4 separate regions of the Homo sapiens genome follow, and regions 2, 3 and 4 are each linked to region 1. The links come from fine-mapping of genetic effects on gene expression. A gene starts in region 1. Each other region holds a variant in brackets. All regions are shown on one strand. Distances are from middle to middle.

The links. PIP is the estimated chance that this variant, and not a neighbour inherited with it, causes the effect. A credible set is the group of variants that fine-mapping cannot tell apart.
Region 2: its variant is the best candidate, but not a certain one, in a credible set for the expression of FMN1 in whole blood (INTERVAL, PIP 0.56).
Region 3: its variant is the best candidate, but not a certain one, in a credible set for the expression of FMN1 in whole blood (TOPMed, PIP 0.73).
Region 4: its variant is the best candidate, but not a certain one, in a credible set for the expression of FMN1 in whole blood (INTERVAL, PIP 0.52).

The regions. Positions count from the first base shown.
Region 1 is chr15:33,190,577-33,198,850 of GRCh38, forward strand. FMN1 (formin 1) reads right to left here and starts at 4,138. Exons shown (of 21, transcript NM_001277313.2): 1 at 4,002-4,138; 2 at 3,333-3,484. It overlaps LOC105370759 (a long non-coding RNA gene), which reads left to right and starts at 4,335. Exons shown (of 3, transcript XR_932090.3): 1 at 4,335-4,999. RefSeq lists silencers at 4,117-4,456, 4,231-4,440.
Region 2 is chr15:33,156,442-33,164,715 of GRCh38, forward strand. All of the region lies in intron 3 of FMN1 (formin 1), which reads right to left. Among named protein-coding and RNA genes, the nearest start is that of FMN1, 34 kb to the right of the region's middle. RefSeq lists an enhancer at 6,736-6,785. The variant A/G (reference allele first, on the strand shown) is at 4,401.
Region 3 is chr15:33,144,477-33,152,750 of GRCh38, forward strand. The region is part of intron 4 of FMN1 (formin 1); the gene reads right to left. Among named protein-coding and RNA genes, the nearest start is that of FMN1, 46 kb to the right of the region's middle. RefSeq lists an enhancer at 844-2,043. The variant G/A (reference allele first, on the strand shown) is at 4,204.
Region 4 is chr15:33,120,287-33,128,560 of GRCh38, forward strand. All of the region lies in intron 4 of FMN1 (formin 1), which reads right to left. Among named protein-coding and RNA genes, the nearest start is that of FMN1, 70 kb to the right of the region's middle. The variant G/A (reference allele first, on the strand shown) is at 3,969.

The sequences.
Region 1 (8,274 bases):
ACAGGGCAACTATGGCTAAAGGAGTGTTTAACAACAAGCACTGCTGTCTGACGCATTTCTAGACTACTAGTCTTCAGATCGTATCATGTTCTCTGAGCTTCTTTAACAAAAACATGAACTAGAGCACTCATACTGGAAGGCCTGTGGCAGGGGTGTGAGTACTAGTATCCTGGCAGCAGCATCATAAAGGTGTCTCCTGCCCCACTTTTACAGCCTTGTCTATCCTCCCAGTCAGCATTCTGGCGGTCCCTGCTACTTCTCCATTAATGCCCAGATCCTGATGACAAACATGAACGTTAAAAAGTCCTGGCTGGCCGGACGTGGTAACTCACGCCTGTAATCCCAGCACTTTGGAAGGCCGAGGCAGGCAGATCACAAGGTCAGGAGATCAAGACCATCCTGGCTAACACGGTGAAACCCCATCTCTACTAAAAATACAAAAAATTAGCCAGGCGTGGTGGTGGGCACCTGTAGACCCAGCTATTCAGGAGGCTGAAGCAGGAGAATGGCGTGAACCCGGGAGGCGGAGCTTGCAGTGTGTTGAGACCGTGCCACTGCACTCCAGCCTGGGCAACAGAGCGAGACTCCATCTCAAAAAAAAAAAAAAAGTCCTGGCTACCTCCAAAATATTTTGCCCAATAGCCTGTCACGTGGAAGACCACAGTAAAAAAGCGTTTCATTTGAAAGGTGTTCATCATTAGCAGTGACCTATGACACTTTAGAAGGAAGAGATAGGCATAGTTCGAATAAGATGGAACATAAAACAAGTCAGTATCAAGTTAAGGAAATAGGAGGTGTGTTGGTTAAAGAAAAAAAAACTTAACTAGTAGTCTGCTTCCTAGAGAGATGCATTACAGAGATCATGGTCATTTCAGGCCAGTGGGGAGGTAAGGATGTCCACAAGGAGGACCAACTCTCTTCTCTCTCCCTCATCCTCAAACATGCACTAAGGCAGTATTTGCTGAAAGCGTAGATAAGCACAGAAATCCAGGTTACTCTGGGAGATTGTTTACTTTTAGCCAGGGAACTTGAGAAACATAAGTGAGAGGGAATGCTCCATTTCTCAGACCCTTGCTTTTATGCGCTGACAAGGTAAAGAGGTTTGTTTCCTTCTTTACATCTCCCCGCTTTAGTAATTACTATTTTGCAGAGCATGGGGTTGATGCTTTGTCAGCACTTCAGCACAGACACTAAATACAGAGATGCTTCAGTTCCTTCACAGTGCCAGCCTGTTGGTGCAAGCTTATATTTGCTGCAGGAGAATACAATTCCCATGGTTTAGCGTCTCTGCAAGATCAGGCAAATCAGATTAACAGCTGTAATTCTGTCAACACAGGCTGGGACCTGTTGAGAATTAAGCTGATATTTAAGACAGAGACTATGTACATCTAAAAATAATAGCTACTCTTAAAACCAGGTCCCAAAAAGAGATTATGAATAGCCCCTAAACGTGGTCATACTACCAACCAGTAGCATCACTGCAAGATATGAAATATCCATTATGAACTTTTACACTGATACGAATAAAGTTTTAATAAGAAAACCATTAAAGGCAAGATCATCTAAAGCACACCACAGCTTGGGATGGTGTGCATGAATCCAAAACTTTAACGTAAAACTAGACTTTGAGGCATGGTATATGAGATAGGAGAGAAGCATTTCTCAATTTTCTATCAAGGATATTTACCATCATCACATCAAGTTCCAGTCTGTCCCCATTCCTCTTCCTCTGGGAACAGCTCCACCAATTTTATGTCTGGAAAGGGAGGATGACCAGGATATGAGACCTACCCTTAGACAATCATAGGTCCTATGGGACCCCATTCCCTTGGCCAAAGCATTTGGTCTAGGCAGGGTTAAGCCTGTGACAAAGGCTTCATCAATCACAGTCAATGCATTGAACACTCAGTGAGAAAGAAGCAGTCTAGAATAGGGCCAGAGGCCTGGAAATCTTCTCTAAAGCTGCATCTTTAACGTATCTCAACTAAGAATCGGCTAAGTACTTGTGAAGGCTGGTGAGAGAAATGCCTGTCCAAACACAGGTGGCTTCAATAGTGGCACCCCTCTAAGATGTAGTGCTATAAGGAACCTGAAGACTACCATACCCCATTTGCATCAGCTCTGACACCTAAAAAGGATAAAGACAATGGAAAAAAATGCATAATTTTTAGGAACGAGACTGGCCTTTATTATCCTTCTTGACTAGTATTATTAATAGCAGTTACTATAAATTCCCCACTTATGTGCCAGAAACTACTGAGTATTTTACCTATATTATCTCGTTTAATCCTCACACCTTCTCCTAAGAGACAGGTAGTATTATCCCTATTTTACAGACGAGAAATTAAAATTAAAGAGGCAAGCAACTTGCAAAAATCACTGAGCTAGTCAGTGGCTGGTCCAGGATTTGAACCTATGTCTGACAGGTTTATGAGTTTAGCCATTACAATATACTGTCTCACTACTCTTCTCCATTGTTTCCCTCCATTGAGGCCATTGCTTCTTTGTTCCTGCAATATGTCTAACTATTCATTGGTCCTGCTCCTGGACTGTAACACAGTTGAGAGAAAGGAGACTAGTGTTTAGATATCTGATCAAGAAGACCCGAGACCTCATTGATTCATTGTGGAAGCAACATCTTCCACAACGACAGTTAATCTGGTATGCAATTCTCAGCTATACTGTTTTCCCTCCCAAAAAAGGGTTAATAAGTCTGTGATCCAAGAGATTTGCAGTAAGCCCTAGAAACAGCTAAGCAACGGCTGTTGAATCCCATTGGTGTGCCTATAAGATGCTACCTGGTGTAGAGAACAGAATATAATTCTCTCTCCTAGGAATTTAGATGCGCCCCTCCGCCCCCCTGCCAATACACACGCAAGGGGGCATAGCAGATGATGGCACATGTCCCATATGCAAACATGAATAGTAAACATGCTTTAGTACAGCTGGAGCTACTGTAGCAGAAAGTCAGGTTGTCTGCTACTCCACCTGGTCTTCTTAAAGGATTGGGTCTGGACATTCACCTCTCAGTGACTGCCACTCCCCATATATATCACAGGTTCAGGCTCTGCATTCAGCCCATTCGGAGTGTGTGAGTGCTAACATGGAACTCTCCAGGAGACAGCAAGCAGAAATGTGGATGATTAAAATAAAGGGTTTTCTTTGGCAATCTCAATTGCAAATGAGGATAAGGAAAATCCTCCCAGCTCACACTCTGCTCCCAGCTACTTGTTCTTGAGTTAAATGAGGGCTTGGCTCTGGCCTCAGGGGGCAAGAGCACTGTTCGTTATTTGGTGGTGGGGGAGGGGGTTGGGGGATCCGTCAGCACTTACATGCCTTTAGAGAATCTGCCTTTACAGAACTTGAAGAGCTCTGATGGAGGAACAGAGATGCTGTGGTGGTAGTGGCCTTGGAGGTGGTGGTAGTGGCAATGGTGATGATGATGATGATGAAAGAAGAAGAAAACGGTGATGGTAAATGTCATCTATAAACACAAGCAAAAAGCAGCAACAGATACCTTTCTAGTCATTGCCAACCATAGTCATGAAGCTGCTTCTGTTCCCAATGCAATCCCATTGTGGTGCTCCCCCTCTGCGCTAAACACATCCAGCTTCAAAAAAAAAAAAAAAAAAAAAAAAAAGCTCTGCATCTCTCCGTCCCCCGCCCTCCCGCCCTCCCGCCCTCCACCTTTCCTGTGCCAAGCTGGGAATGAGACTGCACTGGCGGGTCAAGGGGGCTGGGACCTGAGAGTCAACGACAGGAGTTCTGTAGTGAGGAGCGTTGGGATGACCCGGAGGGCCCACCAACGTACTTGGGAGCAGCTTGGTGGGGGAGCTGGAGGAACCGACACAGAAGGGGAGGAAGATAAGCTGGCGGGGTAAATAGACTTGATGCCTCATTCCAAGAACCCTGAAAGCCACGGGGGAAGGCGGAGCAGGCAGCCTTTGGTCGGGAAGAAGAGACGGGCAGATGGCCAGCAGAACAGACAAGACTCTCTTTACCTGACCAATACTCGGGAGGCTGGTCCCGAGTCCCAGCTACTCGGGAGGCTGAGGCAGGAGGATTGCTTACGGCAACAGCCGTGGCGGCTGCAGCCTCGAAGGATGCTGCGCTCCAGTCCAGAGCCAAAGCCCAAAGGGGCAGCTGCGCCGACCTCCACCGAGGCTCCGCCCCACAGGCCACAGGCCCCGCCTTCCTAGCACGCGCCGGCCTGACGAGCTGTTTGGGGGAGGTGAGCAGTAAACTGATCGGCAGGGCTGAAGACCAGTGGAAACGTGCAGCGGCGCCCGAGGTGGCAGGGGAGGCGGGGCGGGAGGCGGCGGTGCCCAATCAGCAGCCGAGCCGTTGGGCCAGGCTGGGAAGCAGTGCTGTCTTTTGGCACCGTCTGATCCGGGCTGAGGGATTGAAGGCGGTGGTCGCTAAGCTAGGTCTAAGACGGACAGCCAGGGCGACAACCAGTCTCTCGCTACGTGTCCCCAGCTTCCCTGTTTCCGAGCGCCTCTCAAGGCGCACGCTCTGGACTTGTTCAGATGGGGGAAGGGAACTGGTCTGGAACTCCCCACTATTCCCGAGGTTCCCACGCCTCCAGATCCGGAGAGGCCGTTTCGCTCCAGTGGCCTGGCCCCCCTGCCCCCTCAGCCTAGCCGTTCTTGATCGTAAGTGCTAAAAGGAACAAAGAAGGAGAATTCAAGAATCCACACATAAGCCCAAACCCTGACAGGAGCCTTTTCCTCTCCCATCTCCTGCCTACGCTTCCTCCTAGTAGCTTTTTAACTGCTGGCGGTTAAGTTACTTTGACTGGTTTGAATTAAACGCAAAATAGGTTTAGGCTGAGAAATGGGCCAGACCCTTGGCGATCTGAGAAAGAAAGACTGAGTCCGGATGTCAAGAGGCCTGGGCCTCACGAGGGAGTTTGTCTGCTTATTTGAACACCTCAGAGTTGAAGATCTTGTTACTGCTATTTCTGTGCTGGTGAATCAGTACAGACCTTGATGCCAAGGTACTGTTTTGTCCCCAAGTGTCTAATCATTACTGAAATGAACTACCTTCAAACCTTTCCTAAGAGGATTTGAGGCCTTAATGTCGTTGAGATTTGGAATGTGATTTGAGTGACACTGAGATCTTTTCCAAGTAGGTAGGCAAGAAAAGGCATTGTCTTTAATCTGCTTTTGGATAAATGCGAACTGTATCACCCATTTGGTACTTGAAGATAGAATTTTGTCCTGAATAGATTCTGTTTTCAAATAAGTAAATGGGAAAAAAATTTGGAAGGTATTTTTAAGGTGATTTTTTTCACTATTTTTTTTCTAGAAATAATAGTTTATTGGAACTCTGATTTATTCTTAATCACAATATTAGCCAAACACTGATAGGCCCTTTATTTATTTGTTTTTTTAACACACGGTCTCACTCTGTCACCCAGGCTGGGGTGCAGTGGTGCGATCTTGGCTCACTGCAGCCTCAACCCCGTGGGCTAAAGCCATCCTCCCAACTCAGCCTCCAAAGTACCTGGGACTACAGGCGGGCACCACCATGTCCAGCTAATTTTTTAATTTTTTATTTGTAGGGACAGGGTTTCACCATATTGCCCAAGCTGGTCTCAAACTCCTAAGCTCAAGCGATCTTCCCTTCTCAGCCTCCCAAAATGCCGAGATTACAGTTGTGAAGTGCTGTGCCCGGCTCCATAGGCACTTCATATACATTATCTCCTTCAATCCTCATATCTTCCCCTTGTAAATTCCACTTATAGATAAGAAAACTGAGGTTCCCAAAGTTCAAGTAATTGTCCTTGGGTCATGTTCGTAGTTAGGAGTAGAGTCAATACGAGGTCCGTATATCTCCTGTCTAAAAATCATCATCATCAGTTAGAAGAATAAGAAGCCCTCAGTACGACTCTTAATTCCTTGATGCTTTTTTCTTTTTACCTGAAAATTGTCATATAGGGATCCAGTTTTCACACTACTGACTTCTTGAAACCGCAGCCTCAGAAGCACCTTTAAGAGTGAAGTGTCACCTCTGACATGTGTTAGGAGCAATTGCAAGTCAACTTTGCTCATAGAAGGGAGCTGTGATTTCCTATTGTTGGGAAGGAAGTAAAATTTTGCAGGGCTTAAGTCAAACTAGGTTTTAATTGATGTAGAAATCTTTTAAAGTCCACCCACAAAATAATATCATGGTCGTGTGAGCTGAGTCCTAGAAAGGTAAAAGGATGTTAATCCAAAGTCATATTCCAGCATTGTTTCAACAGTGTTCTGAAGAAATTCCTAAATCCTACTCTGGCCTTTAATCAAACCTGGAAATATGTACTTGCTCTAAGCTTGGTAGGGGGAGGGAGTAGGAGGTGTTTTAAAGAGAAAGGAGAAGAAAAATATTTTCCCAAAGAGGCTATTAATAAAGACAAAATATAAATAAGTTAAAGGTTATAGATCAATACAAAGGTATACACTAATTAACAAGTTAGTGGAGTTTTGTTTTGTTTTGTTTTGTTTTGTTTTGTTTTGTTTTGTTTGAGACAATTTCACTCTGTCACCCAGGCTGGAGTACACTGGTGTAATCTCGGCTCACTACAACCTCTGTCTCTCAGGTTCAAGTGATTCTCCTGCCTCAGCCTCCTGAGTAGCTGGGACTACAGGCATACACTACCATGCCTGGCTATTTTTTGTGTTTTTAATAGAGATGGGGTTTCACCATGTCGTCCAGGCTGGTCTCGAACTCCTGACCTCAAGCAATCTGCCCGCCTCGGCCTCCCAAAGTGCTGGGATTACAGGCGTGAGCCACCATGCCCAGCTTGTTAGTGGAGTATTTATGTGATCCTTGCTTAATAAACAGTTACTGGCCGAGAGGATTGCATGGACCCAGGAGTTTGAGACCAGACTGGGCAACACAGTGAGACCCTATCTCTACAAAAAATAAATGTTAAAAAATTAGCTGGGTGTGGTGGTGCATGCCTGTAGTCCCAGGTACTCGAGAGGCCGAGGCAGGAGGATCACTTAAGCCCTCGCACTGCAGCCTGGGTGACAGAGCTAGATCCTGTCTCAAAATAAAAAATAAAAAATGAAAAAATAAACAGCTACTAAGTGCCTAATATATGTTATTGTACTAGACTCTAGGGATATCCAGTTCAATAAAGCCCATTTCCTAATGGAAATGCACAGCCTAGCTGAGAACACTCAATCTGGACCATACCTGAAGAGATCACTTTATCAACAAAATTACTAATCTTCACAACCACCCAGCAGGGTAGGTGTTATCACCACCTCAAGGCTGAGGAAACTCGGACTAGAGAGGATAGTGACTCACTTGAGGTTGCAAGTTTAAGAAAAAGTCTTGACCCCAAATCATTCTGACCTGGAGGCCCACATTTTCTTTCTTTCCTTTTTTTTTTTTTTTTTTTTGACGGAGTCTCTGTTGTCCAGGCTGGAGTGCAGTGGCGCAGTCTCGGCTCACTGCAACCTCCGCCTCCTGGGTTCAAGCGATTCTCCTGCCTCAGCCTCCTGAGTAGCTGGGATTACAGGTGCCCTACCCAGCTAATTTTTTGTGTTTTTAGTAGAGATGGGATTTCACCATGTTGGCCAGGCTGGTCTCAAACTCCTGACCCAGTGATCTGCCCGCCTCAGCCTCCCAAAGTGCTGGGATTACAGGCATGAGCCACCAAGCCCGGCCAAGGCCCACATTTTCACAATATACCATACTGCCTGCCTAAGAGAAAAAGCTGTCTCTGATAATCCTTACCGAAATGCATTCCTCTGTGGAACATGTGAAGTAGATGATACAATGCCTATGAATTCGAAATTACTAAATTTGGTCAATTTGCTTATCAAAGGGAACCAAGAAAACGGAAATAATGGTCCTTGCCTACCTGGGGCTTAAGGTACTATTTACACATTCTCGTTTGAAGTCCCCAGGGGTAAATAGGATTTCATGGGATTCCCCATTCATTCCTGTGTTATTATATACATATATTTTAATATATATAATACATATATAATTAATTTTAATGTATATTAATACATATAATTTTCATTCAGTGTTCCTGGCTCATAACTCCCGTAGCCATTGTTGGTGTTTTTTTATAATGCTGTGTGTGTTAGGCCTCAGGGCCAGGCCTCAGGAAACAGAATCTCTCTCCTGCCCTCTCCTTATCTGCCCCAAGGCAGGACTCTAATCTTCTCCACCTTTCTGATTGTGGGTCTTAAGAACCTCCCCACAGAGAATCCCACCCTATACACTGGGGGAAGGAATGGTGACATCATGAAGCTTCCATAAAAACCCAAG
Region 2 (8,274 bases), 34 kb before region 1:
CAGCTAGTTTTTTTGTATTTTTTTTTTTTGTAGAAACAGCCTTTTGCCATGTTTCCCAGGGTGGTCTGGAAATCTTGGACTCAAGCGATCCTCCCACTTCAGCTTCTCAGAGTGCTGGGATTATAGGTGTGAGCCACTGCTCCCGGCCGTATTTTTAAAACTTTTCTAAAATGCTTATTGCTAGCATTTTCTAAAGATGCACATGTGTAGGGATACTTAATAATTATTGGTAAAAACTCGCTGCATGTGTCCAAGAACTCACTTAGGAGGTAGTCTCTTATTGTGTAATTTATAATAATCAGTAATAAAAGCAATTGCAAAGCTGTCAATATCCGCTGAGCACTAAGCATTAGGAGTTCAATTAATGAATTCTCAGACAAACTGAAGGGAAGCAGCAGATGAGCTATGCTGAGTTTTGGAAAAATAGAATGCTCTCCTCTCTCTTCAAGCATCATTTTCCTCTAGCTGTTCTCATCTCCTCAATTCCCATGGATTAGGAGTAGTGTGTGATGTTGGGGGAGGAGTGTTAAAAATTTTCAGAATTGGCTGGGTATGGTGGCTCACGCCTGTAATCCCAGCACTTTGGGAGGCCGAGGTGGGCAGATCACCAGGTCAGGAGATCGACACCAGCCTGGCCAACATGGTAAACCCCGTCTCTACTAAAAATACAAAAATTAGCTGTGTGTGGTGGTGCATGCCTATAATCCTAGCTACTCAGGAGGCCGAGGCACGAGAATCCCTTGAACCCAGGAGGCCAAGGTTGCAGTGAGCTGACATCGCGCCACTGCACTCCAGCCTGGTGACAGAGTGAGACTCCATCTCAAAAAAAAAAAAAAAAAATTCAGAATCTGTTCAAAGTCACAGTTTATGCTGTAATTTCAAATAGGAATATGACTGCGTATTCTATTCCCTAAGAGAGGGAATTTGTATATACTGAGCACATATACACTTATATTTTCATTTTGTTATCTCATGGAATCAGTACATCTCCATTTTACAGATGAGGAAACTGAAATTCAGAGATAAAGGAATTTGTCTAAGGGAATATGGCTCAGAATATGCAAGTTTCAAACCCAGATCTCTCTCACTACATTGCTTCATAGGTCATGTTGCTCTTCACCTACTGCCTTCTACTAACAAACTGGTTTTCCATCTAATTTGAATAGAGGAGTTTTTTTTGTTGTTTTCTGTTTTTTGTTTTTTTGTTAACTTGGTGTTACATAATTTCTTAACAATGTCTCACATCTTGCTATTTTAACGCTCACGGAGGCCAGGCGCAGCAGCTCACCCCTGTAATCCCAGCACGTTGGGAGGCCAAGGCGGGAGGTTGCTTGAGCTCAGGAATTTGAGACCAGTCTGGGGAACATAGTGAAAGCTTGTTTCCACAAAAAAAGAGAAAATTAGCTGGGAATGTGGTGCAAGCCTGTACTCCCAGCTGCTAGTGAGGCTGAGGCAAGGGGATTGCCTGGGAGGTTGAAGCTGCAGTGGACTGAGATTGCGCCACTGCACCACTGTACTCCAGCCTAAGTGACAGAGCAAGACCCTGTCTTTCAAAAAAAAAAAAAAAAAGAAAAAGAAAGAAACAAAAACCACACTCATTGGAGAGCTTCAACATGTCTGATCAGGTAAAGTGCTGCTCCCTAAGGTCATCCCTTAAACAATAAAATCTAGAAAAAGGGCACCAGGAGTTCACTACAGCTGGTATAGGCAGTAAAAACTCAATGAAGATTCTAATTTAGAAATAAAAGAAGAGAAGGACTGACATAAAGGCTATATCCTTTATGAGAATTACAGACATGTAGTGCCTGTTTACAGGATTAAGTACTTTTTTCCCCTGGTCTTTATAAGTCTTGGTTATGTAAATGGAGAAAATGTCATGGTTAGAACTCTATATGTTAGTCACAGTTGGGAAACTCAAGTCAAGGTTTAGAAAATTATAACATTGGATTTTATAGCAATAAAGCCACAATGCAAGGCATAAAGCTACTATTATAAAAAAAAAGAAAAAAAAAAAGAACTTTACACTATTGCCTCATCCACCCAGAAACTTCCATACAGAATGCTCTTACCACACTTGTGGTGCACATGTCCGGAACCAAAGAGGAGCAGAACAGAGGAAGAAAAAAGAAATGGGAGTTTGTCTCATGATCTTGGGACTACAGTTCCTTTGTTCTGGGCCCTGGGAAGCAGTATGTTGTAAGAAACTTTGTACTGAACTAGACTAAGGAGTTTCACTATCCCAGGATCCATAGGAGCCAATGAAGAATCCTAAGCTACTTACTTATACTTGTTATAAAAAGATTACTTCAGAAGTAAAGTAGAGAGTAGACAAGTAGGGGGTAAGACTAGTGGTATAAATCACTTAGAAAGGTCTTTCAGTATTCCAGAAAGAAGCGATAGCCAAAACCAAAGCAGTAGCAATGTGATGGAGAAGAGATGGTCAATTTTAAAAGATAGATTTCAGGCCAGGCATGGTGCCTCATGACTATAATCCCAGCACTTTGGGAGCCTGAGGTGGGTGGATCACTTGAGTTCAAGACCAGCCTGACCAACATGGTAAAACCCCATCTCTACTAAAAATACAGAAAAAATTAGACAGGCATGGTGGCACATGCCCGTAATCCCAGTTATTTGGGTGGCTAAGGCATAAGAATTGCTTCAACCCAGGAGATCTAGGCTGCAGTGAGCCGAGATTGTGCCACTGCACTCCAGCGTGGGTGAAAGAGTGAGACTCTGTCTCTAAATAAATAAGTAAAAATTAAATAAAAAGATAGAATTGAAAGGGTCTGGTGGTTAATTGGATATGCGTGACAGGAAAGAATTTGGTTTCATGATTTCAGATGTAGGTGACTGGGTAGATTGTGGTGCCATTCACAAAGATAAATGCACGAAGAGGAATAGGCTTCAGGGGAAGAAGATGAATTCAGTTGTGGAAATATTGAATTTGATGTATCGGGGAATAATCAAACAAATATGTCCACAACACTGCTAGATGCAAAGGGATAGAGAATGAGATTTAGGCTAAAGTTAACACATTTAGAAGGAATCATACAGTATATAAGGTGTTTCAATTCCATGTAAGATAAAGTAAGTGCACTCTATCCTAGCTCTCCCACTGAATGTAACAGAAAAAAAACACCAATATAAAATGCATGGAGCAGCTATTTGAACACTCTAAAAGTAAATGGTAACAAGCAGGTTGATGAGGAAGACCAGGCTTTGAAGTATCAACCAACTGTAAAGCAGCTAACTTTCTCAACTTTGTCCTTCAGTAGCCCCTAAGCCTGGACTCAAATGTGCCTGAAACATGGCAGTGAATATCAGCACAAACAGAGGAAGATATAGGAGGAGTCCTGTAATTCAGAATCAAGAATAGAAAGAAGTTTTCTTGTTGGCACCTAAAACTCTGAGGGAGGAGAACATTTCTCTATGATTAGAGGAACTGTAGTCCCAAGATGTATGGGGGAAAACCCTATTTCTTTTTCTCTCACTCTGTTCTGCCTCTCGTTGATTTCGGGTGTGGGCAGAGTTGCAGGAAGTTTGCAGCCAAAGAGTTGGAGGGTTAGTAGTCCTAGATTTCTAGTTAGAGGACTGAAATCAGAGCCTCAGAGAGCCCAGAAGTATGGGAAAGATTATGGAGAAGGATCTTAGAAAGTGACCCATAAAGTTGTTCATGGATACCTGAATTAACCCCAGCCTGTGGATTGTGGATCTGAACTTAAACACCATACGAAGGGCTTTGAAAAAAAATGAAGAGATAAGACAACTTCCCAGGGCCTAGGCTGGCCACTGGGTGGCACATACATGGGATGGAACACTGCAAAAGCTTTGAAAATGGAACTGACATGAAAACCACAACCCACAGGAGGCTCATTGGAACTGGAGGACTGAGCCAAACCAGGTTGACTAGCTGGTTGTTTCAACAAAAAAGGATCTTCCCTGAGCAAATGAACTTCAACCTCAACCCTCTAGAGTGTTCCATGTCAGAAGAAGGCTTTAGACCAGGGCAAACTCTTCTCTGTGACAACCCATTAGAAAGTCAGAATGCAGTATGGAATCATCACACATATTTTTCATCCAAGAAACCAGAGGAAAAAGAGCAGTAAGTCCTAAGAGAAAAAAAGCAAAAGGACAGGAAATCACTGTGCATTGGGGTTAAATACACTGGCATTGCAATTCCATGCTGAGTTCACAGGACTATTTCAAACAGCATTGCCTCATTCTACTTGGACTCAAATGCAGCGGCTCTGCAGAGGCACACACTAAATTATACATCTTAATTTGGCCTGTGAAGTGACCTGCTCTGGTTATGTTCAAGGTAAAAGCACTTTGCTTCCCAGGGAGTCTTCGTGTCTTCTATTTCCTCTGACAGGCTCCAGGCTGGCATTCTGTCTATGACA[A/G]CATTGCAGCAGTGATTTCTCCCTTGATTCTTTTTCCAATAAACAAGTAGATTACCTCACTCTACCCCAAATGGAAATATCTGTTCTGCCTCATCCTAATGAGAAATGATTGCCTTTTAGTAGATGCTATCTATTGTTCATAGCATATTTCACCAATGCTAAAAATAAGATTCAAGAATTAGTTGTCGTCATTCTGTCTGCTGACGGCAGACATCCTAATTGATTTTGGCCTTAAAAGGCCAATGCAAAGCTTTCTTTGCCTAGTCATTGGCACAGTCTTTCCCTGTGACTCCATCTGAGCCCAACACGGCTAAGACAGATTACCTGTATTCCATTTCTAAACTGGAAAATTTTTATTAGTTCAGTCAAATTCACACTCTACCTTTCACACCCTCCTAAGACCAAGAGACTGACTTTTATGAACTCAATCAACAAGTTTCCTTGCCCTGTGGCTTCTACTAGATTTAGCCATTGGGAAACAGTAACAGATTGGAGGGCAGATGGAAGAGGGCTCGGGACCTTTATCCCCTGACTCCCTATCTCCTGGGCTATAGTTTGGTAGTAGGCGTGCCCTCTAATGAAGACCACGCTCCTCTGGGGTAGTTCTCCTCCAGCTGCAGCTGCTTTCTCTGAGTACCATTACTGCCCCCTCCCCTTGCTCATTTAGTCCTAGATGGCTTTGAATTCTGCCTCTCCTGTGTGATTTTGGACAAGTTATTGCCTGCCTTTCTCCTTTCCATCCACCCTGGGATGGAGTGCAGCTTTTTCAAAGAGTAGATTAAAAAAACAAAGGAAGGCTGGGCGCAGTGGCTCACGCCTGTAATCCCAGCACTTTGGGAGGCTGAGGCGGGCGGATCACAAGGTCAGGAGATCGAGACCACCCTGGCCAACACGGTGAAACCCCGTCTCCACTAAAAATACAAAATATTAGCCAGGTGTGGTGGCGAGCACCTGTAGTCCCAGCTACTCAGGAGGCTGAGGCAGGAGAATGGCGTGAACCCGGGAGGTGGAGCTTGCAATGAGACGAGATCGTGCCACTGCACTCCAGCCTGGGTGACAGAGCAAGACTCCGTCTCAAAAAACAAAAAAGAAAAAAAAAAAAAGGAAGTTCTGCAATAGGTTAATGGCTCTTCTTCTTTCCATGGAGTTTTTCTTCTCTTTGCTTTCCTTTTTGTTTTTCTTCTTTCTGAGATAGGGTCTCGCTCTGTCACCCACGCTGCAGTGCAGTGGCGTGATCTCAGCTCACTGCAACCTCCAGCTTCTGGGCCCAGGCAATTCTCCTACCTCAGCTCCTCCAAGTAGCTGGGAAAACAGGTACATGCCATCATGCCCAGATAATTTTTGTATATTTTGTAGAGACAGGGTTTTGCCATGTTGTGCAGCCTGGTCTCAAACTCCCGAGCTCAAGTGATCTGCCCACCTTAGCCTCCCAAAGTGCTGGGATTACAGGGGTGAGCCACTGAGGGGTTTTTCTTTAAACAACCTCCACACTGTAGGAGTAAGAACGTAGGAATAATAACAAAATTACTACAATACACAGCAGAAAGAGACCTATAAGGTATCAAAGAACAAATCAGAGGAGTTAAAAAAAAAAAGGAGAGTCAACATCATGTTTGTAGAATCAGAATAACACTTCAGGCAGAAGAAAGCATTTTAAAATAGCCCCTCATTAAAATATGGGCCTTGGACAGGTAGAGATTAAGAAAATGAACTTCCAAGAGGAAGAAACGTAATACAGGACTGAGAAAACAAGGATTTTAATCAGGTTGGTAGGATATTAACGCTATCTTCATAGACAAATGACTCATGAAGCCATGGATGATTTTTGACCAGGGAAGCAGTATGTTCAGCACTACTCTTAAAGATTAAGTCAAAAGTAATGTCAGAACAGATTGGAGTAGAAAGAGAACAGACAGGGAGTCAAGAATGAGGAGCTGGGGACAACATCAAATTCTGCAAAGAGGTCAAGAAAGAAACAAATTAAAGTGTTACAGGCCGGGCGTGGTGGCTCACGCCTGTAATCCCAGCACTTTGGGAGGCCAAGGCAGGCAGATCACCTGAGGTCAGGAGATTGAGACCAGCCTGGTCAACATAGTGAAACCCCATCCCTACTAAAAATACAAAAACTAGCTTGGTGTGGCTAATTAGCTGGCACCTGTAGTACCAGCTACCTAGGAAACTAAGGTGGGAGAATCGCTTGAACCCGGGAGGTGGAGGTTGCAGTGAGCCGAGATCACGCCACTGTACTCCACTCCAGCCTGGGTGACAGAGTGAGACACTGCTTCAAAAAAAAGATATGTTACAGACAGTTTTAGGTAGCAACTTTAGTAGAGTGAGAGAACACCAAACTAATTATATTACAAAGAGTAAGTGAGAATGCTAGTGGTTAAGACAAGAAAAATATGAGTAATAACCTGTACCGGTATTTGCTATTTTGGTTTCTTGTCTTGTCTTTTCTTTTTTTTTTTTTGAGACTGAGTTTCGCTCTCGTTGCCCAGGCTGGAGCGCAATGGCACAATCTCGGCTCACCGCAACCTCTGCCTTCTGGATTCAAGCGATTCTCCTGCCTCAGCCTCCCGAGTAGCTGGGATTACAGGCACGCACCACCATGCCCGGCTAATTTTGTATTTTTAGTAGAGAGGGGGTTTCTCCATGTTGGTCAGGCTAGTCTTGAACTCCTGACCTCAGGTGATCTGCTCATCTCGGCCTCCCAAAGTGCTGGGATTACAGGCGTGAGCTACCATGCCTGGCTGTTTTGTTTTGTTTTGTTTTGTTTTGTTTTGTTTTGTTTTTGAGACGGAGTTTCACTCTTGTTGCCGAGGCTGGAGTACAGTGGTGAGATCTTGGCTCACTGCAACCTCCACCTCCTGGGTTCAAGTGATTCTCCTGCCTCAGCCTCCCAAGTAGCTGGGATTACAGGCAGCCGCCATCATGCTCAACAAATTTTTGTATTTTTGGTAGAGATGGGGTTTCCTCATGTTGTCCAGGCTGGTCTCGAACTCCTGACCTCAGGTGATCCTCCCACCTCAGCCTCCCAAATTGCTGGGATTACAGGCGTAAGCCACTGCGCCTGGCCTGTTTTTGTTTTTTTTGAGACATGGAAAACAGAAGTATGTTTTCAGTTTGAAAAGAAGGAAGTAGCAAGGAAGGAGATATTGATGATACAGTGAAAAATGGTATGAAACATGGGAAAAAAGGCACCAGAGGAAGAAGACATGGGCTCAAGGACACATGGGGAGGAATCAGCCTTGACAAGAAGGAGGATGGTTTCCTACTCAAAGACTAAGGAAAAAAGATTATTATGAGATAGCACTGAAATTGAGAGAGTTTACTTATTTTCTCAATGATTTTTGTTTTCTTCAAAAAGTCTGTAAATTTATGATTTTCTTTGCATTCTAACAATGTCACAAGAAGGAAAGCACTAAACTAGAGTTTCGGAGGCAAAATTCTTTCCTGTGAAACTATGATTTGACTGTGAGACCACCAGCATAAGCTATGTCTTATTTTAACATATGGGCAAATCTCTACAAAAATGTAGAGGACAAATTTCAGCCAATATAACTATTTTAGAGGACGAGTTTCTGGCCAAAGTCACAGCTGGTTATTAAAGGGAAAAAAAGGGCTCCTTTTTGTGTACGTTTTTTCATTGCTGTTCATTTTTTGACCTACAAACCAACCCACACAGATACCCAGATATGTTAACAAGGTGTGCGCATTGAAGATTCTCTCAAAGACGTCGAGGAATTCTTTCTTTGCCTCTCCCTTACCTTTTCAAAGCTTAATTACATAAAGAAAAATGAGTATTAGCTTTCCACATGATTTCCATGAAAATTAGATATTGAGATCCTCAACACATCACTGGTTTTACATCACT
Region 3 (8,274 bases), 46 kb before region 1:
AATACAAAAAATTAGCCGGGCGTGGTGGCAGGTGCCTGTAGTCCCAGGCTACTCGGGAGGCTGAGGCAGGAGAATGGCATGAACCCGGGAGGCGGAACTTGCAGTGAGCCGAGATTGCGCCACTGCACTCCAGCCTGGGCGACAGAGCTAGACTCCGTCTGAAAAAAAAAAAAAAAAAAAGAGAAATCCAATATTAACCTACACAAAACAATAAAATATCGATAAAGATGCTATATAAGTAAGTGCCTTAAAAAACAAGCAGCAAATGTAGCAGCTTTAATCAAGAACAAATCAGCAAATCCACATCGAATAAACAACTCATTGTGAGCTATTCTTTGTAGCATCATTTCATCATTGGAAAATACCAAAAGGAGTGGGATTTTAAAATCCTTTCTGCCCCTATGAACCAGCAATGATGTGTAATTATAATAAAGCTAATTTTAAAAAGTGCTTTATGAACTATTTTCATTGATATTATTTCATTTGATTCTCAAAAAACCGCTATGAAATTTGACATAATTCCTTCCAGCAACTGCAATCAGGGGAGTAATAACAAGCTAAAAAATCGGTATTTCACTGACTCTACCGATTTTGGTGCTTCCCTCTCCCCCACACCAATTTCCCCTGAATCATTCTAGAAATCATGTGTGCTCGTGGATGTAATCCTTCCTCCTCATCACTGCTTTCATCTCTTGCTTCGGCTGCACAAGGTGCCTCTTGATGCTTCCAAAATGGGCACCAGGGCTGCTGTAGTCAAAGGTGCCAGATGTGTTGCCCAAGGCACAACTGCCTACCTCTCCCGCTTCTCCTTGGGATAAGACAAAATCTCATTCATTCTACCATCAATAAAACCACACTGGATAAAATCTAGTTCATTATGCCCTTTCACACCGTGCTTCCATAGCACCTCCAATAGGGACACTGCTTCCCCAAGTCTGTACATCCTGTTATGCAGAATTTGCTTTCAATGTCCTAAAGAAATTTTAGTAACATTACTCTTTAAATTTTCACACTGCTTTTTTTATGGCAGTCCTCTCTCCCTATCTCCAGGCATGAATCCATGGGGCTGGCGCAACAGAAAATCTGGAGAACATACGTCATGCTATTTTCAGTGTTGTCCCTCCCCGTGGTAGCCGCTACCCTCGGATGTGGCTCAAATTCTTGCTTTCCTTAAGATGAGCTTTGTCCTGTGATGATCATCCCAGCCCTCAAGCAGAAGACTCTGGACGGGCATGACTGTCAAATTATCCAGACATGCCCAGACAAGTCTGAATCCTAGGGAGAACATAGCTGAGGCCCAAGCTGCACACCTTATTTACTCTCCACAATTCCTCTGGGCTCACCTGGAAACCAACAGCTTTACTCAGTCACAGGAGCACTTCTGAGTTCTCCCTCTAAACACAAAACTGAAACTAAAGACTTGAACGTTTTAGAAAAAATACGTGAAATCTGAATGAACTGATTTGTGACTTTATTGTGAATAAAACCGTATTACCATGAATTTTTTTTTTTTTTTTGAAATGGAGTCTCTCTTTGTCACCCAGGCTGGAGTTCAGTGGTGCAATCTCGGCTCACTGTAACATACTTCTCCCGGGATCAAGAGATTCTCGGGCTTCAGCCTCCCGAGTAACTGGGACTATACCATGAATTACTAATACAAAAATCTGAATCTCAGCGTTTGAAGTCCTCACTCACTTGCTTAGCGTGAAACCCAGTCCTCAAGAGAGGAAGTCCCTACCTCTCTTGAACAGCTCTTCAATACTGCAAAACTGTTGGGCTTCTGATGATAAAGTTCTTTCATTTCTTTTTGCCAAAGCTCCTTCTTCCTCAAGTGTAGGGGCCCTCCCAGGAGGATGAGGAAATGTTTGTCCAAGACATTCTGGCCCAGAAGTGTTCTCTCTTGGTACTTTTCCTTCAGTAGTTTGTTGTTCCTCCCTATTATCCAACATCGTTCCAGGACCCCTCAAATCCGTCTGTATCCCATACATCTCTGAATTCCAATTCTGACCTGATTTCAAGTTCTTTCCTATAAGGCTCTGAGCCTTGTTTCAATGTACTGGAACAATCCATGACTGTGAAAAAAAAATTCCTAGAACCTTCTATGAGAGGGAAGAAACTCCAGAACATGCCATGATAGGAGGCTGAGCTGCCGGGGCACACAGAGGAACTCCAAGGGGATGGTATGACCTAATATCACAGCCCAGGGGCCACAAAGATACATTAGATATGGTCTGATTCCAATTTCAAAATTATCTAACAGAAGTCACTATCCCTGTAAGTGATCAGAAAGCAAATACAGTGAGATCGGCACCACAGTCATTTATCTGCTCACAGCTATCAAGAGGAAGGGGGTGGGGCCGCAGTGGTATCTGCTGTTTTCAAAAAGTGCTTTCTCAGGATTCCCTAAGAAATAAAACAAAACAGGCCGTGGCTCACCCCTGTAATCCCAGAACTTTGGAAGGTCGAGGCGGGCAGATCACGAGGTCAGGAGTTCAAGACGAGCCTGGCCAACGTGGTGAAATCCCATCCCTACTAAAAATACAAAAACTAGCCAGATGCACACCTGTAATCCCAGCTAGCTGGGAGGCTGAGGAAGGAGAATTCCTTGAACCTGGGAGGCGGAGGTTGCAGTGAGCCAAGATCACGCCACTGTACTCTAGCCTGGGAAACAAGAGCGAGACTCCGTCTCAAAAAAAAAAAAAAAAAGAAATAAAACAAAACATACGCTTTCAATATTCAGTACTCTGCTTTATCAGTTTGATATAATACTTGTAATCCAATTACAACCCGAAAAGGTTGTCTTTTTCTCATGTCCCAACCAATAATGACATGAGGCAGAGTGTTGAGTTAACAAATATATCCAATGAATTATTCTCTAAAATTTAATATCTATTTATTTTAAAAATAGTTTTCTCTTTTACATTTATCAGTGGCTGTTACTTTTAATCATGGTGTTATTCTGCTATTTCTACACATCTTTGGAATTATTTCGGAAGGCTGTGCATATAGCCAAAGGCCACAGACTGCCACCCTTGCTTTATATCTTGTACTCTGAATCCAAAAATAGAGACAAGTGAAAAGCAATCCAGTGGAAGGTGTTATCCTCAAAGCATAATTCAATCTTAATCTGGGGAAAAATGCACAGGCATAGAGCTGGCTTGAGATTTTAAAACATCAGATTCTGGCCATGGTCCTGGCCTTTAAATCACATTCCCCTTTAAAAAGCAAAACAAATGAGAAAAATACTCATTTATTTTATACAGAAACTGACCTTAAAATACAAATTGTTCATTAGTAGAACATTTATTTCGTATTTCACATGCCAATGAGCTATTCTTATTTGAGATCATTGGAAAAGGCACTCTTTAAAATTCTCTTTATGCTTTACACAAAAAGCAAGCAGGCACAATGGGATCTCAAACACTGTTAAATTTTAAGAGCTTTGTGTGTTGTTTTTTGAAAAAAAAAATATTGTTTCTGAATCCATGGACTAAAAATCATATTACCAGGACTTCTAATTCACTTTCTCTTTGTATGAACTTTTAACAATAAAAAGATGGTCAACCTAATCAAATTTAGAGGAGAAAGGTCACATGAGAAAGAAATAAAACACTGTAATAATCATTTAAGTATTAAGATTACCACTGTTCTATAACAAAACATATACCCATATACCACATAAACACACATTCTTCTTTCCCCTGTTGCTCATTTAAAATTCCATCCCATCTTTCACATCCATTCACTAATAAATCGGAGGGAAAAAACTGTAGCCACTACTTCCACTTCCTTATCACCTACCTTCAGCCTCTTATAATCTACTCATAGACGTCATTCTACCGAAGTAACTCCCTCAAAGAGGGTTAGAAGCAACAGTATTTTCCTGTTCTTTATGGCATAATTCATCCCCCTCATCCAGACTCCCATTGGCTCCTCCAGATCCACTCCCCATTTTTCTCAACCTGCTCTTGGCCCTGGAAGGCTGACCCCGTAGACCACAGCCCCTGGCTTGGCTCCTTTACACTCTGCTTTCTGGTTGGTTCAGTTAGAGGAGGTTTACAGGAAGTGGTCCAGAGGAGGGTGAGGCCAGGATATTTATCCCCACAGCTTCCTCTCCGCTGGGTGTCTCTACCAGAAACCACTGTTCCTGACAGAGGGTCCCCTCCATTAATCTCCCCTGTCTGGGCTCCAGTGACCACGCAC[G/A]CCTTCCCTTGCGCCTTCAGCCTTGCAGGTATCTGTTTCCTCTCAGGACTGTGAGTAATCCAGGGGCCTCTCTGAATTGCTTTCTTCCGTTGGTTTCTGGATTATGCTCTATCCTCATCCTATCCCTACCTCCTGGACTAGTGCTTTTTGAGCATGGCTTTTACAGGTCTCTAACAACCTACATTTCCCCTTGTAACAATGATATATTCTCAATGCTAAAATTCTTGCCTCAAAGGACATGGGGAAAACATAGAAAAGTGTACTTTAGCTATAATTGTACTCCCCACCCCCGACCCCACACACAAGCACTCTAGGTGGTGAATTTGTTTTTTTCTTAAAAAATAAAAGTAGTTAAATCACTCTTGAAGAATCATAAAAGTAACATATTCACTACAACCAGAGAAACAATATAAAAATATGTAAAGAGAAATAAAATTAATGCCTTTCTCCAATTTTTCCGCATCTTTCTCTTTCACTTCATTCCCCACCTCCACTGCCTTGACCCTCAATAAGGAATGTTAACAGCCTGGCCAGTGTTCTTCCACACTCATCTCCATGATATTCGAACCTGTACCAAACATATATATTTATATATTGGGAGGGGTGATAGTTGTTTTACAAAACCTGAGAGCATTTTATGTATTATTTTATAACTCAAATAGATACAAATCTAGATCAGTACTCTGAACAGCCTCATAATATTACAGAGCATAAATGCACAATCATTTATTTAACCATTTCTCTAATGATGAACATTCAAATTTTTTCTAGCTATTTTTTGCCACTACAGACAATGCTGCAATAAACATCCTTATGCCTAATTTCTTATTGGTACATATATTTATGTAAGCTAAATTCCTAAAAGTGGGATTGCCAGGTCATAGTTACACAGAGTTTTAATTGGGATCCTATTACTTTCTCAAAAGTGCATAGCAACATACTTTATGTCAACTTAATTCCTGTATTTGTTTTATATGGGTAGAATATGGCTGATGCAATTTTTGAGTCCTATTTTCCCTCCATTAATTTTAGATAATTTTCTTTGTACTACATACTTTCTGTAGTAACCTTAAATGGCTGCATATGTCTATTAATGTCGTGACGCTTCTTTACAATTTTATTGGAATTGCATCAAACCTTAATATTAATATGGGAAGAGTTTATATTTACTTCCCATAATGTATATCCACAGAGACAATCAAAGCTTTGACAGTAGTATTAGGGGTTTACACATGTAAATAAAATTTATTTCATGTATGCCTCTTAACTCTTAATAAGTTGACATTAATTACATATTTTCATGGGCACAAGAATTGATCAAGAGATTCTCAGTTCTCAATATCAGGAAGAACTATGCCTGGAGCATATGCTTCCATCACCACATCAGTGACTTCAGTCAAAGGAAAACAACCACAGGATTACTCAAGAGCATACTAAAGATTGGGCATTTCCCAAGTATGGTGAGCCAAGCTCCCTGTGATTCTTCTGGCACTAAAAGGGTTTACTTTGAATCAAAGGTAAATGAAAGCAAGCAAAACAGAAAGGAATCCTAGCACCAAGCTCCAAGGACACTGCTTTGCAGGCTAGCACAACTAGAGTTCCTCAAGGTTTGGGGGAAGACCATACTCCACAAAGGCTTGGGAACATTCCACATCAGTCTCCACCCGCCAAATAAAATACTATAAAACCAATCTCCAGGTTGGTGGTGGGAGGAGGCAGGAGAAGAAAAACCTGACTACCAGTTCTTGTTAGTATATTCTCTATTTTATCACCACTATGTGGTGATAATGGAGATTCCCATGCATCATCCTTGAAATGAGAAGTTAAGAAATTACAAACCCAACAGAAGGTGCATCGCTGGCCTCTGTGACATCCTTATGCTACATCCTGCATGAATGGTAATGTCAGCTTTAACTGCTTAGTCTTGTAACAAGGATAAGCGGGTTTCACTGGTTCCTGGGAATTACTACTTGCCTCTAACATTGAAGAGTCTTCCAACTGGAAACAGATCTGATTACTTTTGCCAGACTTAATCTCTTTCTTAAGCAGTTAATGAGAGCTTTCAATAATCTTAATGACATCACTTCAATAAAAATACCTAGATGTTATTTCCACAGGAAATAAATGTCCACAGACCATAAACTTAATCTGGTTAATAGCTAACCTGGGAGAAAGGTGGGAGTTGGGTTCAGATAAAGGGACACTGTAGTGTGATGGTAAATGAATTATTCACCCCTCTTTCTGGACTGCTGGCAACTCTCTGAGCCCTCTTCTGGGTTTAGGTGGGAAGAGAAATGAAGTGAAAGACAAAGGTAGCTGGAAGCAGGAAACTTCTCCCTGTATGGGCTTCCCAGCTGCAGGGAGTCACTGAAGGGTTCAGAATATAAAGAGGACTCACAGCGACAGGAAAGGGAAAATCAAGAGAGAAAAGGGAACTAGACAGAGGATACAAATCAAAGGTACTATCTGGGGAACTCCCTCCCTCATGCCTTTCAAAGTAGGGCCAATAGGAGGTAATGGCTGGAGGCCCTATAGGAAGTCTCCACAGTAGAGAAGTTACCCATATCAAAAAAAGCTCTTACCCACTTCTACTCTCCTTCCCTTTTCCAGCTTCTTCTTTTATAAGGTTAGAAGCACAGGAGATGCTTACAGTTCTTATGACTGGTTCCTGAAAGTGCTGCTGAAGATCCCAATGGAAGGCTGAGGCCAAAGTAAAGGGAATGTTGAGTGATTGCACGGAGAGGCCAAAGGAACATGTGATCATCCATTCACCTTGTCACTCAGTGGGCTCACGGTCAGTCTCCAACAGAAACTGAATGTGCTCTGTGTGCCTGCCTTGATCCAGATACACTGGAGCTTTTATGATATTTTTCAAATAGAAAAAGGGCAAAATAATAAGATAATCCTACATTGAGGAAAAAGAGGATTTACTAAAGAGCAATGTATTTAATGCACAGTTTCTGCAGTTTTTGGAGTTAAGGCAGCTAAGATATTCTACACTCTTGCCTCCAGAAATCTCTCTCTTAATAATCTCAGAGAGTTTCCTTGTCAAGTGTTTCTAAGTCCTCAGCATCCGACAGGAGAAAGAATTTTCATCACTAGGGTTCTGCAATACATGATATAAAATCTACGATTCTGTGACTTTCCTGGTGAAGCATATTGGTTATGAAAGTAGAAAATCTTATCAAAACAAGATTTATTGCAAAAAACAAGATGAAAAGCATTTACCACATTTTTAAAGCTCTACCCCCTGGATCAATGATCTAGAGAGATTTATAAAATTTCACAAGTTCAAAATGACCAAAAAGCTTTGAAGCTCCTCTTCCCTAGATAGATATTTTTTATCTCAAAAATTGCACTTGATGTTTGCTCTAACCTGTAAGAGACTGTCTATCATATTAGGAGCTATTCCCTAGAAAAAGCATTGCCCACATGCTGTTAGAGGAGCTCTGAAAAAGAACACATAACCTGCACAATGGCATATAAAACCCTGAGATTCTGGCCACAACAGCCTAGAAAATGTAATGAATACCAGAGCAGTGCTTCTTTTACACAGTCTTTTTTGGTCCTATTGAATCCACAAAATTATTTTCATGTAACATTTTAAATCACATTAAGTATGTAAGTCAAATGAGCTCTTTAGCACCTTTTACATAAGAAATGATGCTATACCAGTAACAGTAACAACCCATAAGTAAAAGATACCTACGGAATAAAGTCAATTTGTGCTTATTTGGGAAATTTAAAAACTGTAAAAAAAGAAAACTTTGAACCAAGTTTCTTCAAATTAGACTGAATTCCTTCCTGTTCTGTTAAAACACAAAAGTTTTTGTCATAAAATAATAGCACTTATCGAGATGATTACTAAAAACAAACAAACAAAAACCTCTAACTACAGACATAAGTGAAGACACAGCGTACTTTTGCACTTCTGCTTAGAGAATCCCTAGAATGACTCCAGCAGCATGAATGGCAGAATTTAGGTCAAGAGGCCAATTACCCAGTGTTACCATCAAAGGCAGGGACAAGTTACCACTTCTCTCTGCCTGTTCCTGTTTTCCTTTGAGAGTC
Region 4 (8,274 bases), 70 kb before region 1:
AAAGATAGCAGATGTGCTAACTCCAGTCACTTTATTCTCCTTGCTGACCCTTTCCAAGGGCCATCATCATCTTCCAGGTCAATGGATTAGGTTACCAGTTGTGCCCATAGTGTTTACAGAGTGGTTAGCTACTGCACTTTTCCTACACACCGGCAGGGAAGACATGTTCAAAGTTAGCCATCTAGTGCATGTTTATTGGTGGACATTCCAGCAACAAGGAATTGTATAATCCAAAAAATGAGAAAACCTCATGTCGCCAACCCCAGAGATTACTATTTTTTTATGTGGGGATATACGAACACACACGTAGTGATACCAAGATACTGTTCGGCAGCTTTTGTTGTCTTTTCGTGTTCTGGTATTCCTGGATCATTGGTGTGTCAGTTCATATATATCTACATCATTCTTTTAAGTGACTACATACCCATTTTACAGACATATATATAAGATATGGAAAAATTTATTCTACCTATTACCCTTTTACTGCACATTTGGTTTTTTTAATCCTATGAACATTCTTGCATGTTTATGTATTTTTAAAAGTATTTCTTTTGAATCTACTTTCCATTTTTTTACAAGCTCTCCAGGACTCTTTCTTCTGAAAATATACCTGTTGCACTATACACTGAACTACTTATAGTACAGTAAGCCCATCATCTTGGATGCAAAGTAAATTCACCTCTTTTCCTCCCATTGCTTCTTGATAGAGGTTTTAGTCTTAATTATAGGATAGTACTCTGCCTTCATTCATATAACCCAAAAATGTAAACTGGAGAACCTTCCACATGGGACAGATGAAAGGTTGGCTAGATGATGTTGTAACAAGAGTATACAATACCCCATCTATGATTTACAGTCTACTTTCTCCAAGGACTTAGATCAACAACAACAAAAAATTAAACTCTTGCCTTTTATCAATAGAGCAGTGGGTCCTGTGTCTTGAAACAAAAAGTATTCTGCAAATAAAACTTCATCATATGCCTGATTCTGAGTTTCAATACCACAATGACCAATTACTTTGTACCTCTGCTCCCTCAGACCACATGGCGGATTCAGGGTCACATTCAATGCCAGTGTCAATATTGTTTACAATGTTCTGGACTGTCTATAAATTGAGAGCACAAAGGGAGAAACTCATTCCCTCATTTCCAGTATTACATGTAGTTCTATATGATACAAAGGTAGAAATCATTTGTCTATTACACCATTTCCCAGTAAAGTACATAGTTGACAAGTTGGTTTTGTTTTGTTTGTTTTGTTTTTTAGATAGTCTTGCTCTGTCGCCAGGGTAGAGTGCAGTGGCGCAATCTTGGCTCACTGCAACCTCCACCTCCCGGGTTCAACTGATTCTCGTGCCTCAGCCTCCTGAGTAGCTGGGATTACAGGTGTCAGCCACCATGCCCAGCTTCTTTTTGTATGTTTAGTAGAGACAAGATTTCACCATGTTGGCCAGGATGGTCTCAATCTCCTGACCCCTCAAGTGATCCGCCTGCCTCAGCCTCCCAAAGTGCTAGGATTATAGGCGTGAGCCACCACACCCGGCCAAATTTTTGTTTTTCTGTTTGTTTGAATTTTAGGAATTTGAAAACAAAAAGAAAGCAGTAGACTTAGAGCCACAATAAGAAAAATCTAGAACTTAATTAGGTCTCTCTCATTGTGTTACCAATTAATTCATTTATTCATTTACCAAAAGTGTACTGCAAGCAAACAATATGAAGAGGACACGATCTCTACTTTCAAGGAGCACAATACAGTCAGGCCAATAGACAAAGAACAGACAAATAAAGAATACTACTCTGGAAGTGCAGGAAAGGGCCTGGGAACTTTTACAGTTAACTACACAGTGAAACAAATTATCCCTTGTCCACGGAATTAAGTGCAATGTTCTTAGGTGAAACCTAAAAGATTGAAAACTCTGACCTATAGTCACCAAAAAAAGTGAATAAGCTAAGTCTTATTTATTCTTGTCATATTCCAATTTTGTGTTTCTACTCCGTAAAACGTTGTTGTGTTCCGCAAATTCAAGTAACCATGTAATTGTGCTTTAAAAGAAGAAAATTTTTTAACCCAGGCATGTATTAAACAATTTTCTCCCAAAAAGTACATGCCTGGTGGGAAAGTAAGGTAGGTCAGAGTAGGTTTTATAAAATTAGTATTGGCTTTAGACAGTACACATTGGCTCATCCTTTTACTGCTCAGCCCACAGTACATTTCATGTATACCTTCTAGATGTCCCAAGTATTTAAAATGCAACAGGATAAACAACCAGGCCAATATTCTGACATCACCTTCTAAACAGTACCACTAGCTAATGCAGCAGTAATAAAATCTAATGGCCACTAGTGACAGGTACAATGTGAGAGAGAAAACTTGGAGTTTGTGTCAAATCTAGGAACACTAAATTGGCACATGCTGGCCTATCCTACTCCAGGTTTGCTCCTTCAAAAAGCTAATGATGTGTGTCAACAAAGATTGACCACGGCAACAGATTGCTGCCATTATTCTGTTACATAATCTGAAAGAAGAGGGAACTGGAATATTTCTTATATATAGGAATAGAAAGAGATTGACATAGTATAGGCTATCCAATCTTGATAAAGCAAACCAACATCTATGCAGCATGTACTATGTGCCAGGCAGTGAGCTAAATGCTTTATATATACATGGCCTAACAATATCCTGCTAGGTAATTAATGTCACAAATAAAAAGACAGGCCGAGAGAGGTTAAGTAATCTGACCATGTTCACACAACTAAATAGGTTTACAGCATCTCCACATCCTTATAACTAAAGCCCAAATTGTAGAATCATCTAGAATGCCTTTCTTTCAACGTCATATCGTCAAGCCTTGTGGATCTATTTGCGCAATGTTTTCACATCCATCCACTTATTTCCAGGCCCAATTCAAGTCCCCATCAACTGGGGATCACCAACTGGCCTTCCTTTTTCTAACTTATTTCTGTCCACTCTGCTGCTTAATCTTTCCAAATCAAAACTGGGGTCATGTCACTCCTTTGCTCAAAGGCCTTCCATAGCTTTTCACCATCTACTGAATTAGGTAAATACTCCTGAATCTGGCATTCAAAGCCTACTGCACTATATAGTATACAGACTTGGTTCAAACAATGTTTGTTGAATGAATACATGGCACTAAGCTAAGACTCACTATCTGTGGCAATAGTTCCCCAAAGTAGTATCATAGCATATTAAGTAATAAATATGTCCTCAAAAGATAAATACAAGGCCTAGAATCTATTTCACCCTAAAACCAAGAATATTGAGGAAAAATTAAGTCTAACATATGGTATGGGGGTACAGGTTATATAGTGAGGGTTGTTGATCAAACAGCTAGCTATTTTATAGAATGCATGTTTTAACACAGATTAAGTTTTCCAAGACATGAACGTCCCTTCCATGAATTCCTCACTCCAACATCAGCACATTGCTTCCTCCATTTGGCCTTTTGGCTCCACTACGTAAAGTTTCTTAGTTAGAACTTCTTGTATTACAAGTGGCAGAAATCCAACTAAACTGGCTTAGGCAGAATAGAATTTGTTCATATAACCAAAAAGTCCAGGATTACAGGCATGGAGCTCAAATGATATAAGGAATCTCTCTACATCTCTCGATTCTGTTCTCCCCTCATGGTATCAAAGATAATCATTACAACTTCACAATTAGATTCTTCCAGCTCAGTAACCATAGCTACTAAGACAGTGTCCCAACTATTCCAGCAAAGGACTGGGGAACTACTCTCTAGAGTATAACTTAGAAAATGTGCCCGTCCATAAACAGATCACAGTGACCAGGTGACGTGAATTATCATTCAGTCCTGGGTTGAGGATCATCTCTAGATCCAATAGATCAGCTTCATCCTAACCATGCAGAGTGCAAAGGGTGAGACGTGGCTTTTCAAAAGAAAAGTGAGGTGATGTTAAAGACAAAAAGGAAACAGATGTTATGTGGAG[G/A]AAAAAAACACATTGACATTCACTGTAGAAAAGTTCTGAGACATAAAAGTGAGAAGGGGGTCTGGTCAGCGTCTTGCTGTGCTGTTATAGCCTCTCCGGGCTACTTCTGATCAATGAGTAGGACCCTCTGTACATTTCACCCCCCTTGCCATTTTGTGCCTTTATCAGTAAAGCTTCCCATGGCCCTGCCATTCAGCAGAGGCGGCAGCTGCATGACCTTCTTAAATTACTGCTTGGGACTGAGCATTGGGATTGCTTTAAAGCTCTCCCAAAGTGATCCTAATGTGTAGCCAGGGTTGAGTCATCGGAGTAGGAAAGCCCTTGGTCTTCACCATCAGCATATACAAATATTGCATTAATCTTCTAGAATGTATTTGGTATCTAATAATCTGTGTTCTTTTCAATAAAAATATCTGAGATTATTCCTTTCATTTTCAGAAACTGATCCACAAAGTCTGGAAGGAGAGGGAGGAAATCTCACAAATCAGACACTAAATAGCACTCCTTTGTGCTCCTTAATTTTGGATTTTGTTTTCTTTTTTGCATGGGATCAATTCAATACTAGATGAAAAAAATGCTTTTCATTTTTCTGCATTTTTTTTTTTAATTTGGAACGGGAAACAAATCATAGAGCCTTGTTTGGCACAAGGGCAAATGTTAAAGATACTATGTGCCACTCCCCTCCACTGAGGTTTTGATTTCTTTGAAATCAGAGGCAATTCAAATGAAGTTATATTCCTGGAATGTATAAAATCCCTTCTCGCATCCATGTCTACTCTATCATGGAATGCTTAAACAATTTAAAGCGACTGAGTTTTTCCACCAGCCCCTCTCTGTGAAATAACATAATGCCTTAGAACATTACATCTAGGGAGGCCAAATGATGCGGTAGAATGCAGAGTTTGAATCCCTGATCCATCACTTACTGTGAATCACTTACTCAGCTTAAGAAGGTCACCTAATTTTTGTCTTCCATAAAATGGAGGAAATAACCTCTCTCAAAGACTCTTGTAAAGTTTAGAGATAATACATAGAAAGCTTCTGATGCATAGTAAGCCGTCAAGAAATGTTAGCAATCATCATTTAGGAAAATAGTTTCCTTTTAAAATTCAGTCTTGAAGGTTAGTTCTAGTTGAAGAAAGGTAGACTCTTCCTAGATGTACCAGTGCACTAAGACAATATGTGTAGAAGATTATTTAAAGGAAATATCTAATGGGGTTATACAAATTAGTTATGTCTGGTCTTCAAATGAACCCTTCTCAAATTTGGATATCTAAATTACAGCTTAAAAAAATTCAGAATAGGTGGGGCATGGTGTCTCACACCTGTAATCCCAGCACTTCGGAAGGCCAAGGCGGGCAGATCACTTGAGGTCAGGAATTCAAGACTAGCCTGGTCAACATGGTGAAACCTCGTCTCTACTAAAATACAAAAATTAGTCAGGTGTCTCAAAAAAAAAAAAAAATTAAGAATGAAGTCTGTTAAATGGCCAACTTTGTATGGTGAAATTTTGGTAAAAACTCCCACTGTTTTAGTGACTGAGCCCTTCCTATTTTCATGTAGTTCATCAAGAATGTGCTTCATCAGTAATACTAAATCTCTAAATGTTTAACTTCTCAAGCATGACTGATTGGCTATAGCCTATTGAAAAGTGCCAAATTTCTTTCTAAAAACCATCTCTAACAATTCACGGTTGAAGGCTTTTTTGTGCAGTAAGTCACTAAGTTAGGAAAGTGGCTTCTAAATCTACACATGAGATAACAGTAATACCAAACTCACAGTGCAGTTGTGAAAAACAGATAAGGTGGATGAAAGGGCTTTGCAGGTGATAAAGCACTGTGTAAATGTTACGCTTTTGCAGCTGTGGCTGCCACAGCTGCTGACTAAATGAGTTTATCCCCGGTCATGAGGAGCATACATCCTCATTAGAGACATGGTGTGTTATTAAGCACCACCTAAAGACAGAGAGTTTTCCTAGACTTCAGAGAAGGAAGATGGGTGGAAAGATCAAGGAAACACCACTGTGAGGCAGGTACGGCACCAGGCCCTCATGGATGGGCAACAGTCTAATAGAGAGGAGGCAGAAGGTCACTGTGGGCAGGCAGTCCAGCAGAGCAGCACGCAGTGTGCACCAAAAGGAGCCTGGAGGCCCAGAGCTTCTGGAGGGTGAGAGGAGAAGGTGGGTGCAGAGGGCAGAGTGGATCCCATAACGTCCAAAATTTTTTCAAGACAGACCAACTCTACATCTACTCCTCTTATTCGCTGAGTACCTCCAAAACTCACTGAAAAACTCCATAGATTTAGCTGAAGTTCTTAGCACTTCTGCCCATTCTTCAATAGACCAGAAAGAAGAAAGGAAGCAGCAGGAAATGGGCGGAAGTGTTAAGTTGCAAATCCTGGCAGCATGCCCAGAATGGGACCAACTCAGCAGACAGGAAGCGAAGGCAATAAAAGAGCAATCTACGCTACAGGCAGGCTGGAGCAGAAACTCGGGAAAGGAGGGAAGACAGATTACTGGAACAGCCAGTTTGCAGGGCCATGAAACCCGAACTCTTTTCGATCCGCCTTCCTGGCGAGTCTTCTGGCTCTGAAACTTTGGGAAGGAAAACTGATACCCATAAATAACTGTGGCTGTATAACTGCAAAGTGGGATAAACGTTTCATCTTGATTAAACGTAAGGTGACTCCTGACAAAGAACTGTGGTTGGCTGACTCTGTGGAGAGGCTTGCAAGATGCTGTCATGACTACATGTGGGAGTTTGAGAAAACTGCAAGATGCATGTTGCAAAAAGACATATTAAGCTTTCTGCTGTTTTCCAGGCACTGTATCAGGAGCTGGTTGGGGGAGTGATGAACGAGATAGCATCCTGTTAACAAGCAGTAGCAGACTTCCCATGTTACATTCTCTCAAACAGAGAGGAGGTCAGGCCAGATCTGTTTCTCCTCAAAAATATAATCTCAAGAAAAATCAACTGGTCGGATCATCACTACCTAACCACAGATCTCCCTCCTTATTCTTCACAACAAGAATCCGTCAAATAAGTAACGTCATGGTTAATGCTCCTCCACATTCAACCTGGACCCTAAATCCCTCTAAATAACTTGACTCTGTTCATACACAGACCACCCACTTTACCAGTCTCAAAGGATGGACCAGAACAACTATTTCCTTGAGTTAATGAGTGAACCTACATCTAACTGTAAATAAAACACTAAAAATAGGTAACTATTACTTACTAAATGAAACCCAAGTGTAACTTTCCATTAAACTCAACCTGAATAAAGTTTTTAAACAGTGAACCTTTTAAAACAGAAACCAGTCTGTAAGCATCCTAAAGCTAGTCAACCAAGACAGAAGTTAAAACACAAGTATTTTCCAATCAAACTCAGCACCATTCCAACTGAAGCTTCCACTTGGGGCTGTGAAACCCTCTTTGGACGTAAGCTATGCTGAACCTGTGGTTTCAGGCAGGTTATATTGTAATGATAGGGGAAACCAATGCCACATCCACTTGCAGTGTCTGTAGAGAACTACATCTTGCCACACATCCAAGATCTCATTCCTCAGTCTCCCTGAAAAATTCTGTTGGTAAGAGAGAAGTGAGACAGTGCTGTTTCCGAGGAATCTTATGCCTCTCTTTATTCTACAACAAATGGAGACAGATGGAAATAGAAGAAGAGGCAGCAACAGGACAGGAGAAAGGAAAGAAAGGGGAAAGGAAGGTAACAGAAGGGCAACGGGGGAAGGGGAAAATAGACAAATCATAGCAGAATGCCCAGACACGACACAGGTCAGGTGACAGAAAGGACAAAAAAGATGGGAGAAGAAAACCAAGAATGAGGCCAGAAGAAGGGAGAGGAGACACCATGGTGATGGGAGCAGTAGAGAGTGTAACAGAAGTAGGATGGAGAAATAAAGCAAGCAAACAAATTGCTCCCGGGAAAAAAAGCAAAAAGCAGACTTACGAGCAACCAAAGACCATAATTTCCAACACCCTCAGAGAGCAATAATTAGAAGCGCAACAGTTGGGAATTTGAACATGGCTGCTGACTAGGCCCGACCATCAACGGGGTCTGATTCCGGGCCTGATCCTTGACGATCTCAAGGATTCACCAGCCTCTCTCCGAACTCCAACTGCCCGCCATTTGTTCATCAACAAAATCATTCTTTCTACCTCCTAAAAGAATTTTTATTCCTATGACATTGCAAGGTCCATTTATAAAAAGCCTCATGCAAGTTCTCAGAGTCATTACACTGAGAATGAAACAGCGTGATATGTTAAGTAAACACATACCGAGTCCGGAG